Linked DNA regions of Homo sapiens. The protein of the gene in region 1 interacts with the protein of each later gene in a pairwise test. Each region holds a gene or a part of one and is shown in the gene's direction. Other genes may lie near its edges.

Evidence for each region.
Region 2: the proteins of CFAP298 (region 1) and ZNF624 interact in a two-hybrid assay, tested with the Homo sapiens proteins (one large-scale study listed by BioGRID and IntAct).
Region 3: the proteins of CFAP298 (region 1) and UNC13B interact in a two-hybrid assay, tested with the Homo sapiens proteins (one large-scale study listed by BioGRID and IntAct).

What each region holds. Positions count from the first base shown.
Region 1 is NC_000021.9:32,605,778-32,609,431, reverse strand, and holds part of CFAP298 (cilia- and flagella-associated protein 298), read left to right. Parts: intron 1-1,715; coding exon 1,716-1,783; intron 1,784-3,654. Other genes in the region: CFAP298-TCP10L (uncharacterized protein LOC110091775), read left to right, coding at 1,716-1,783. UniProt on the Homo sapiens protein: Plays a role in motile cilium function, possibly by acting on outer dynein arm assembly. Seems to be important for initiation rather than maintenance of cilium motility.
Region 2 is NC_000017.11:16,629,710-16,633,363, reverse strand, and holds part of ZNF624 (zinc finger protein 624), read left to right. Parts: intron 1-3,654. UniProt on the Homo sapiens protein: May be involved in transcriptional regulation.
Region 3 is NC_000009.12:35,301,400-35,305,053, forward strand, and holds part of UNC13B (protein unc-13 homolog B), read left to right. Parts: coding exon 1-3,654. UniProt on the Homo sapiens protein: Plays a role in vesicle maturation during exocytosis as a target of the diacylglycerol second messenger pathway.

The sequences.
Region 1 (3,654 bases):
CTGTAGCTCCTTTGGTAAAACTCTAATCTAGGATGAATTAGGTAGATAAAGGAAGCTTTTGTCTTGCTCTTTAATAAGTTGCAGCTTGCTTTTATATGTATTCGACGAACCAGATGAAATGACCCTTTCCCTTCTGTAGCTCAAAAATGGTTGAGTATTGGCAATTTCATGTGTTTCCACCTAATAATTGTTGGCAGGTCCTCACCGCAATGTATTCAGAGTTGTGTTTTGTTACTGTTCGCAAATGTTGGGGGATCTTTCGAGATGGACTGTGTGAAAGAGGAAAGGGAAAGCATGTCAGCACATGGACTTCCCTGATCAAGGACATGCTTCTCTCTGGGGCAGAGCACTTCAGTACACGGCAAAACACTGAGGAAATTCCTCTCCTTTCAGTGTTTGGCTGATCATGTGGAATTGATGATAATCCTTTTTGATAGCTTATTCTTTTTAACCTGCATTAAAAGCGCCATTTAAAACACTGTAATTGAACAGCCCTAAAACACTGTTAGGAGTAAAAGAACAGTATTCCTGCAAGGCCTTTAGCAGCTCAAAAATACATTTTTTTAAATATCAGGGATAGTAAGAATTCCTAGTATTTTTTCCTTTCAATGTTAACCTGAAAAATGGTTGTCTTCCACAGCTTTCTTACGTAAGAAGATGTGGTAAGATGAGGAAAAAAAATATGAGAACCAGTTAACAGTTCATTATTCATCATTAAACCAATATGTAATATGTTCTTAAATTAACCACCTTTTTTTTTTTTTTTTTTTTTTTTGAGACAGAGTCTTACTCTGTCACCCAGGTTGGAGTGCAGTGGCACAATCTCGGCTCACTGCAACCTCTGCCTCCCGGATTCCAGTGATTCTCCTGCCTCAGCCTCCAGAGTAGCTGGGATTACACATGCCTGCTACCATGCCCGGCTAATTTTTGTATTTTTCATAGAGACAGGGTTTCAGCATGTTGCCCAGGCTGGTCTCGAACTCCTGACCTCAGGTGATCCACCCATCTTGGCCTTCCGAAGTGCTGGGATTACAGGCGTGAGCCACTACGCCCAGCCTAACCACTTCTATTATAATACAATCTTGTGTTTCTAATATTTTCAATGTCTAATTAATACTGTTATTTACTAGGAATGTATGGTTTCAACTTGCCCCATTTTCCCTAGGTTTGGGCATTCCATCTTCTTCTTTTTTTTTTTTTTTTTTTTGGCTTCTAAGCTTTCAAGTTATTATTTTTTCCTGATCTAGGGGTCACCAAATTATGGGCTACAGGTCAAATTTAGCCAGCTGCCTATTGTAAATAAAATTGTAAGGAGACGCAGCTACCCCAGTTATTTAAGTATTGTCTGCTCTTGTGCTACGTGGCAGAGCTGAGTTATCCCACCCAACAAGACTGTGTGGCCTGCAAAGCCTCAAATTTTACTCTCTGGCCCTTTCCAGAAAAAGTTCACCGGCCCTGTTTACCCAACGACATGCATTTCTGTTTTTTGTAGCCTTTGCCACTTTGCGTAAAGCACACTCCAGGTCTCTGCTGTTGGGAAGAGGTCTTCACCTAACTTCCGGCAGCCAGGTTTCTTGCTTCTCTTCCCTAAATTCCACACTCGCACTCTCTCTCAGTTCATTTACCCCCTGACTCAGACAGAGGGGATTGAGGTATTTCAGAAGAGGCTTTGTATTTGACAGCTCTTTCTCCCTCTCTCCTTTTTATTTTTATAGCTCCAAATGAGAAGATGAAGCAAGTGTTAAAGAAGACTATAGAAGAAGCCAAAGCAATAATATCTAAGGTTGGCTTTTTTAAATGATGCACTAAAACTTGTTGGGTTTTTTTTTTTTTTTTTGGAGATGGAATTTTGCTTTTGTTGCCCAGGCTGGAGTGCAATGGTGCGATCTCGGCTCACCACAACCTCCACCTCCTGGGTTCAAGCAATTCTCCTGCCTCAGCCTCCCGAGTAGCTGGGATTACAGGCATGCACCACCATGCCGAGCTAATTTTGTATTTTTAGTAGAGACGGGGTTTCTCCATGTTGGTCAGGCTGGTCTCGAACTCCTGACCTCAGGTGATCCGCCTGTCTTGGCCTCCCAAAGTGCTGGGATTACAGGCATGAGCCACCGCGCCCGGCCTAAAACTTGTCTTTTGAGATAAAACTCCAACTCTGGCTTCCAGAGTTGCCTCTCAGCCAGCCTTCTCTTTCAGCCTTCCGGAGGCAAAGGAAACAAGCGTATTTGGGGTAGGCTGTAGCTTTTCCTTTCATAATCCTGACGGTTGCCCAGAGGCCTCTCCGTTCCTCCAGGCAGACACAAATTTTTGTTGGCTTATGTAAATATAGGTTCACGTATAATACAAATATGTATAATACAAATGTTGATTTCATTTCTTTTACCTTTTTGAAGAACTTAACAAAGTTAAGTAGGGGAGATTTGAATATTGTGGCCATCGAGTAGCTCTCCAGACACTTGATTGACTTAATATGTATTTGATATAAATGGTTTTTTGTAATTGTCTTCAGCATTTTATACAAAGGCTAGTTTATAGAGGGAGGAGCGTAAATTTATACCATTGATATACAGATAATGTGTATCTGGAGGAAGAGAATTTAAGGCTATTGAAAGAAGTGGTATCTGTATCTGTTGCTTGTATTTGTGTGTTGGTGATATTAGTTGCTACCGCTCTCAACTGCAAGTCTCTTGACTGATCACCACTTTTTCTTCTGCTTCTCCTGGTTTGCTCAGCAGAACTGTTATTTTTAAACCAATATTTCTCAAACTTACCAAGCTTTTGACTAATCTTTGAAGAGCCTCAGCAAAGGCTGCCCTGAAGCTCTGTGCCTGTTAATATAGGAAAGGCTTTATGAAGCTCTACAGGAGAGGCCCTGGTTGAGCCCGTCGTTTGCGTGGTGATGGCATCTAGGCATGTGAGCACGTCTCAGGCCATGGCAAGAAAACAGTGGTCTGGCTGTTGTTCTGCACCCTTCTCCCCACACTTTGCTGTGGAACTCCTCTCTCGGTCGCCTCACTTCTCCCCTTTGCCTGTGTACTTCTGAAAGTACTTTTTATCCTTGGTCTTCTTCCTCTCTCAGTATCTTATCTACTCTGCCAAATGCAAATTCCACCCTCTGCAGATAACTCTGAAGCTTCCATCCTTTCCCCCTGACATCTTGCTTCACTTCCAACCTGAATTTCCAGCTGGTTGTGAGATGGTTCTATCTGAACACCCAGTCAGCACTTTGAAGTCCAGTTTTCTAGAAATGAGCTCTTTGCTTCCTCACTCCTCTCCCTCTCTGTTCTGTCCCTGAGAATCAGCACCTCCTATGAGCTTCTCTGTTTCCAGTAACAGAACCACAGTGTCTTGGTTTTATAGGGCAAATCCTCAGTGTCATCTTCAACACTTCTCCCTTCTGTCACCTCTAGGTTTGAAGTGGGGTTCTGTACCGTCTGCTCCCATGATGCCTCTTAAGTCCACCTCTTCCTTTCACTTCCACAGCTGTGGCTTTCTTTAAGGCTCTCCTGTAGCCTTTTGCATTCTGATGCCCACTGGGGGTCCTGCCAGTCAATTCAATTCCGTTCTGACACTAACTACTCAGAGACAGCACAGACCCCACAGGTCAAGGGCAGATCCTTCAATTCTGACACTAACTGCCTGGAGTTAGCATCAGAC
Region 2 (3,654 bases), on another chromosome or scaffold:
TTGCTAATACAAACAAGGAAGCAGTTGAGAATCAAAATATAGTATTGATGTATTTAATCAATATTATACATCTATATACTGTGAACTGGCTTAGGTACAAGGGCTATAGCAGCTAATAAAATGGACCAGGTCCCTGCCTTCATGAAGATTAAATTTTGAGAAATAGATAATTTGGCAAACAAATAAAAACAAACTAAAATGGTGGTTGCCATACCTCCCAGCTATGAGATAAATTGGAGGATAAGAAAGAGTAACTGGGGTGGGATGAGGACACCTGCTTCAAACAGGGTGGTCAGGGGAGCTTCTGAAGAGGTGACATTTAAGCCGAGACCTGAAGGGTCAGAAGAAGAAAACAGTAAGGGGAAGAGGAAAAGAGAAGTATTCCAGGCTAAGGGAACAACAATGCAAAGGATCTGATACAGCAGAGAATGCCATGTGTTCTGGAAATCAAAAGGAAGCTGCTGTGACTAAAGTGAGGGGAAACTGGTACAGAATAAGATTAGAGATGTAGCAGCCTGCCTGTGCAGGGCTTTGTAGATGATCTAAGTGAGTTCCAAAGCATGGAGAGATTCTACTGCAGGGTTTTTAGAAAATAACCCTGTTTATAGAGATTGAACTTGAGGCATAAAGCAGGCAGTAAGTTAAAAGGTTGTTACAATAGTCTATCCAGGAGATGATAGTAACTTTGATTAGGGTGATGGTAGTGGAGATGGAAAGAAATAGATTCTGGTTCATTTAAGCATTCATTTTATTATGATGCCATGAACAATCCACACATGAATTACGTATTTTTATATATCAGATATTATTTATACTTAAAAGAGTGAGTGAAAAGTAGACATTAGAGATAGTTTTAGATAACTTTTTAGAGAGGGATTTTTTTTCCCCTACGAAGAGGGAAAGAGAAATGGAGCAGTGGCTAAAGGAAAGAATGGAGTCAAGAAAAAATACTTGTTTTATTTTTGAAATGGGAGCTGCTATGACATGTTTGAGTGCTGATAGGATTGCCTTAATGGAGAGAGAGACATTGATGTTGCAAGACAAAGACGAAGGACTAAAGTGTTTGACAGGGTTAAAGGAGATAAAATCTAGAAAGGAAAGGGGGATTTACCTTGAATAGGTACAGAGGTCACCTCCTGTGTTGTAATACTGAGAAAGGTGGAGAAGATGGGTGCACCTGCATGTCAGTTGAGGGCAGGAAGATTGAGGCCACTATTATGATAGCTGCCATAGTTTCTAAAATGTGAGGCAAGATCATTAGCTTATGGTGAGGGAAGAAAAAATTGTGAGAGAGGGAAAGTTATTTTTTATGGTAGTGGAATTCACCAGGGAAGCCATCTTGGCCTGAAGCTTTTATTGGGAAAAGTGTTTAATTATAGCCTCTATGCCTTTAGTACTTAGGACTGTTCATATTTCCTTTTTCTTTTTGTTTCAGTTTAGCAAATTATGTTTAGGGATTGTTCCGTTTAATCTAATTTTAAAATTTATTGGCATACTATCGGTTTATCATTTAAATGTTTGTATGGATCTGAAGTGATGTGCCACTTCTTATTCCTGATACTGGTTTTTTGTGTTTTCTTTATTTTGTCTTACTCAGTCTTGCTAGAGTTTATCAATCTTACTTGACTCTTTTTTTTCTTTGAGACAGGGTCTCATTCTATCACCCAGGCTGGAATGCAGTGGTGTGATCATAGCTCACTGCAGTCTCAAACTCCTGGGCTCAAGTGATCCTCCTGCCTCATCCTCCTACATAGCTGGGAGTAGAGGCACACACCACCACACCTAAGATTTTTATTTTTTGTAGAGGAAGGGGTCTCACTATGTTGACCAAGCTGTTCTCGAACTCCTGGGCTCAAGCTATCCTCCCACCTCGTCCTCCCAAATTGCTGGGATTTCAGGTGTGAGTCACCATGCCTGACATTACTTGGCTTTTAAAAACATTACTGTTTTTAGTCCTTTTTCTTGTATGTTTGAGTTTTATTACTTTCTGTTCTTTATTATTTTATTCCATTCTTAGAGCTTAATTTGTGGATCTTTTCTAACCTCTTGAATTAGGTACTTAGATCGTTGATTTTCAGCTGTTCTTCTTTTCTAATTGTTTAGGGCTATCAGAACTATATCACACTTTTTTATGTAGCATCTTCATAATTTTTGAGTGGAAAATATTTTATAATTTCTATTGTGATATCTTTTATCCTTGGGTTATTTTTAAATGTTTTTCTTAATTTTGTGCCATTTGGGAATTTTCTAGCAATCTTGTTGACTTTAATTCTACTATGGTCAGACAGGATGCTCTGAATTATGTCAGTCTTTGCAGAATTTTGTAAACATTTTGTGCTCTTGAAAAAATGTACAGCCTATAGGTAGGTATTGAGTATTGAGTACAATTTCTAGATGTGTCAGGAGATTAAGTTTGTTAATTATGTTAAAATCTGTATACTTACAGCTTATTCTATCAATTGAGAAAGATTTTTTAAAGTCTGCTAGTGAGACTATACATTTGCTTCCTATTTAGTTCATTTAATTTTTTTCTTTCTGTATTTGAAGCTGTGTTATTATGTAAATACAAAGTTATAATTGTTATCTGTATGGTAAATTGGCTTTTGTCGTTATGAAGTATCTCATTTCTTAAAAGTTTTTGCCTTAAAATCTGTTTTGTCTGATACTAATATTACTACAGCATCTTTCTTTTGGTTGTTATTTGTATAGTATATCTTTTTTCATCTGCTAACTTTCACTTTCTGTGTATTCTTGTACTTTTTGTCTTTATTTTTAAGGTAGTATATTGTTAATTTTTTATTTTTTTGAGACTGAGTTTCACTCTCGTCGCCCAGGCTGGAGTGCAATGGCGTGATCTCGGCTCACTGCAAACTCTGCCTCCCAGGTTCAAGCGATTCTACTCGCTCAGCCTCTTCAGTAGCTGGGATTACAGGCATGCACCACCATGCCCAGCTAATTTTTGTATTTTCAGTAGAGATGGGGTTTCACCATGTTGGCTAGGTTGGTCTGGATCTCTTGATCTCAGGTGATCCACCCACCTCGGCCTCCCAAAGCGCTGGGATTACAAGCAATAGCCACCACGCACAGCCTCTTCTCTTTTTTTTTTCTAAAAATATCTTCATTTGGCCTTCATTTTGGGAGGATATTTTTGGTAAGTTTGAAATTTTAGATTGGCAGTTATATTCTTTCAACATTTCAAAGGTATCATTTATTGTTTTCTGTCTTATGTACAATCTGTGGAGAAGTGAACCATCTGTCTAAACTTTTCTATAAAAGGCAGGGCAGCAATATTTTTGGCTTTGTTGGATCATAAGGACTCTCTGCTGTGACTACTCCACTCTGCCATTGTAGCACCAAGGAATCCATAGGCAACATATTAACCAAGTAATGTGGTTGTGCTCCACTAAAACTTCACTTATGGACTCTGAAATTTGAATTTCATACATTTTTAATGTCTCACATTCTTTTAATATATTTTTCAACCATTTTAAATGTAAAAATTGGCCAGGCGTGGTGACTCATGCTTGTAATCCCAGCACTTTGGTAGGCCAAGGCAGGCACTGGAGGCCAGGAGTTTGAGACCAGCCTGGGCAACATGGTGAAACCCCGTCTCTACTAAAAATACAAATTTTAGCTAGGCATGGTGGCACTGGC
Region 3 (3,654 bases), on another chromosome or scaffold:
GAAAAGGAGGAAACAAAAAAAGATGATGACCAGAGTAAGCCACCAAGAAAAGAAAGCTTTGTTGAGTGTGGTTTGGAGTTAAATAAAAGGGAAGGCACTCTTGACAATTACAGTAGTAGCATCATTGCTTTAAATGGGAGTGATGAAGAAACTACGGGCTGGTTCCAGATGCCCACAAGTGAGAATTTGTTGTCCTCCCAAGTAACCAGTGAACCTTCAAACTTAGTTAGTTCTGCAAGTAAAAATGATGAGAGTCTATTGGAAGAAAAACTCTGTATAGATCTGTCTCTTTTACCAGATCAACAAAAAATATGTGCCAAAGATACTCCAGGACATCCTTGTATAGCTGGCAGTAGAACTGCAAATAAAGAGGTATTTTCAAAGCCATTAGAGGAGGACAAAGTTACAGGTAATGATGATTTCCTTGAGCCACTCAGAAAATCATTTAGCCAGTTTTTGCTCACTTCCCCTGAGACTTGTTCAAAGGAAAGTTTGTCAGAACCTGTGAAAATTCGCCAGGTGGAGGAAGATGGTTTAGAAAGGGGCTCTAAGAAAGATGGTCATTCCTTTTCCTTTAGTGGAAAACTAAATCTTCCATTTTTTAGAAGTCTTGGTCATTCTGAAAAGCAACAGGAGTTAAAAGAGAAAGGAAGCATTTTTCCTTTGTTTAAATTTTCTTTCACTGACAGCAAGGTTACTGTTAATGACCAGAGTTTACGTGGCTCAGCAGTAACCACTGATGAGGAGAGCAAAAAAAATTGCCATGAAGATACCAAACATAGTTCAATAAAATCTAGTTCTGTTCCAAATATTCATAGTGATCTAGGAAAATTTGACAGTACAGAGGAATTTAAAAAGAATGACCAGATAAATTGTCCTGAAGATGCCAAACTTAATTCAATAAAATCTAGTTCAGTTCCAAATATTCATGATGATCTAGAGAAGTTTGACAGTATAAAGGAATTTAATAAGAATGACCAAGTAAATTGTCCTGAAGATGCCAAACTTAGTTCAATAAAATCTGGTTCAGCTCCAAATACTCAGGATAATCTAGGGAAATTTGACAGTACAGAGGAATTTAATCAGAATGACCAAATAAATAGTCCTGAAGATGCCAAATTTAATATAATAAAGTCTGATTCAGTTACAAATATTAATAATGATCTGGGGAAATTTGGGAATATAGAGGAATTAAATCCAAGTGACCACACAGCAGGACAGAATTTTGAAAGGGATGGCTTAGCCATCCCTGGAGTTGTGCCCAAAGAACATATAACTTCAGATCCTTTAGGAGAAGATAAGAATCTTATACAAGCAGCATCTTCAGTAGCATCAGACTCTTCATTAGAGTGTATTTCTACCACTTCCAAATCCACTTTGGTTAATGAAATTAATGAAGATGAGGTTATAGATAAGACTTCCAAGAAAAATACCCAAGGAAGCTTCCTTTCTGGCCTGTTTAATAGGTTTTCTTCTGCTGAAAATTTGTCTAGTCAAGAATTAAATTTGAAAAATGATGACTCCCATCACAAGAATAATACCCCAGGTTTAATCTCTGGAATATTTAACCTGCTATCAAATAGCGGTATGATTGATCATAAACCAGAGGAAGCAAAGTTCATGTCTTTAGGCAACATGAAGAGTTTGAATGGAGATAACCATTTATCCTTGGATGAGGTCCCTGCTACTTCATGTGTGACTTCTGAGAACCCGAAGAACCATGTTGAAAAACATGAAACTTCTAGCTTCATAGAAGCCTCCTTATTACCTAAAGAAAACATACCATTATCTGATGCTGGGGATGATAATCATTATTGTTCCCCTACAGAGAAAAACCAGCAAAGTGAAAAGCATCACCCCTCCTCTGAGAACATTGTACTTCACTGTGCTCCAAGTGCTCAGCTAGGTTTTTTGGAGAAATCTATGGCTAAGAGGCAAATGCCAAACCATGTTCTTGAGGCAAAACTACATGAAAATTCAAACAAGTTAAATTCACCTGTACTAAATACCAACATTCTCAATAAATCAAACAACTATCAGGCTTTTGAAGAGATGAACAGTCCTTTCTGTTTTGAATGGGACTCTGACATAAAAGATTTGTCTAAAAATTCCAGAAAACTTCAGCCAGTTTATTATATGTTAAATCAAAATAGATTTCTATCAGCCGATGCTTGCTTGTGGCTTGACTCAGAAAACTCAGTGATAAATTTTTGCCAAAAAGATCAAAATGCAAACATCTTGGAGTGGAGAACAAATCCAAACAGTGTCATTTGGTGTGACTTACCATATGAATCATTCAATCAGTTAGCATTTAATGAAGATTACTTATTAAGAGGTGATGTGTGGGCAGCTAACTCATTATATGGAAACTCTGGTCCTCTTCCAATTAATGAGGCTAATAATTCACTAGAAGAATTACCCATTGACTTAAGTTCTTCATCAGATCATGAAAAGACTACATGCCCCGTAGTTGATCAAGAATCATTAAGAATGGATGAAAACTTTGTTTTTTCAAGTTTTGGTTATGAGTACCAGGAATGGTTGTCATGTCTTGAACATGGAGTGTGGTGGCCATCAGAGGATGGGGATTATGGATATTATATGTTTCATGATGGTCAATATATCTATTCTCTTCTCACTGATTCTACTGGGCAGTATGCATATTTATTTATACCTGATTCTTATCAAGAGTATTTGGATTGTGATTTACAGACAAATGGTCTATCAAGTATTACGTTGGATGACAGCATTATTTCTGCCTGTAGTTTTAAAGTACTTGATAAGGAAGATGAAATATTTTGGTATGTTGAAGAGGAACCAATTGATGACCCTCTTGATTTATCTTTAGCTTTGCCAAGAAGTGAGGAACCATTGTATCTAAATTTAGAAACCTTTTCACAAGTACTTAAAGAGTCAAGTTGTGACCAAAGCGATCAGCCACTAGATTTTTCAGGCTATAATCGTCAAAAGTTTAAAGGAGACTTTAGATCTTTCAAAGAAAGGCCGTGTGGTTCTGAAGACGCTGAATGTACATTAGATCTCAGAAATCAGCCCCAAACTATTAGTAATCATGTCTCAAGCAGAGATCAAATTATAGAGAGAGATAAAAACCAGCCTCTAGCTGAAGATTCATCAGTTCACCTTTCCAGTTTCCATTGGCTTCAGTCTTCTGTTGAAGAAGTTACCACTTTGGTTCATCCTGAAAATATGACTAAAGGCTCACAACAAGCAGAAGAGACATCATTAGTGAACAAAGTGGCTTCAGTATTTTCTGTTTTGGGTGCCTCAGTTGGTAGTACTTTGAAGTTTGATAAGAGTGAATCCTTAGAGGCTTTGGCCATGCAGAAAGTGAATCAGCAGTCAGATTTAGCAGAGCTCACAAATGATGGCTTTCAGTCATTAATCATGAGTAAGCAATTAGAGGGTAACTCCCCAAATGTGGAAAAAAGTCTTCTTAAGGATTCAGAAAGACAGATAGTATCCAATGTTCAGCATCCAGAATTGATCAAAAATATAAGGCAAGAATTCTCTTTAAATAAAAACAACCATGTGAAAAAGCAAAGTTTGTTAAAATCTGGTTTCCAGGTAAGCCAAACAACTCCTCAGGCTAAATCAGGTGTAAAAGATGATGAAATCATTACAACAGACTCTATT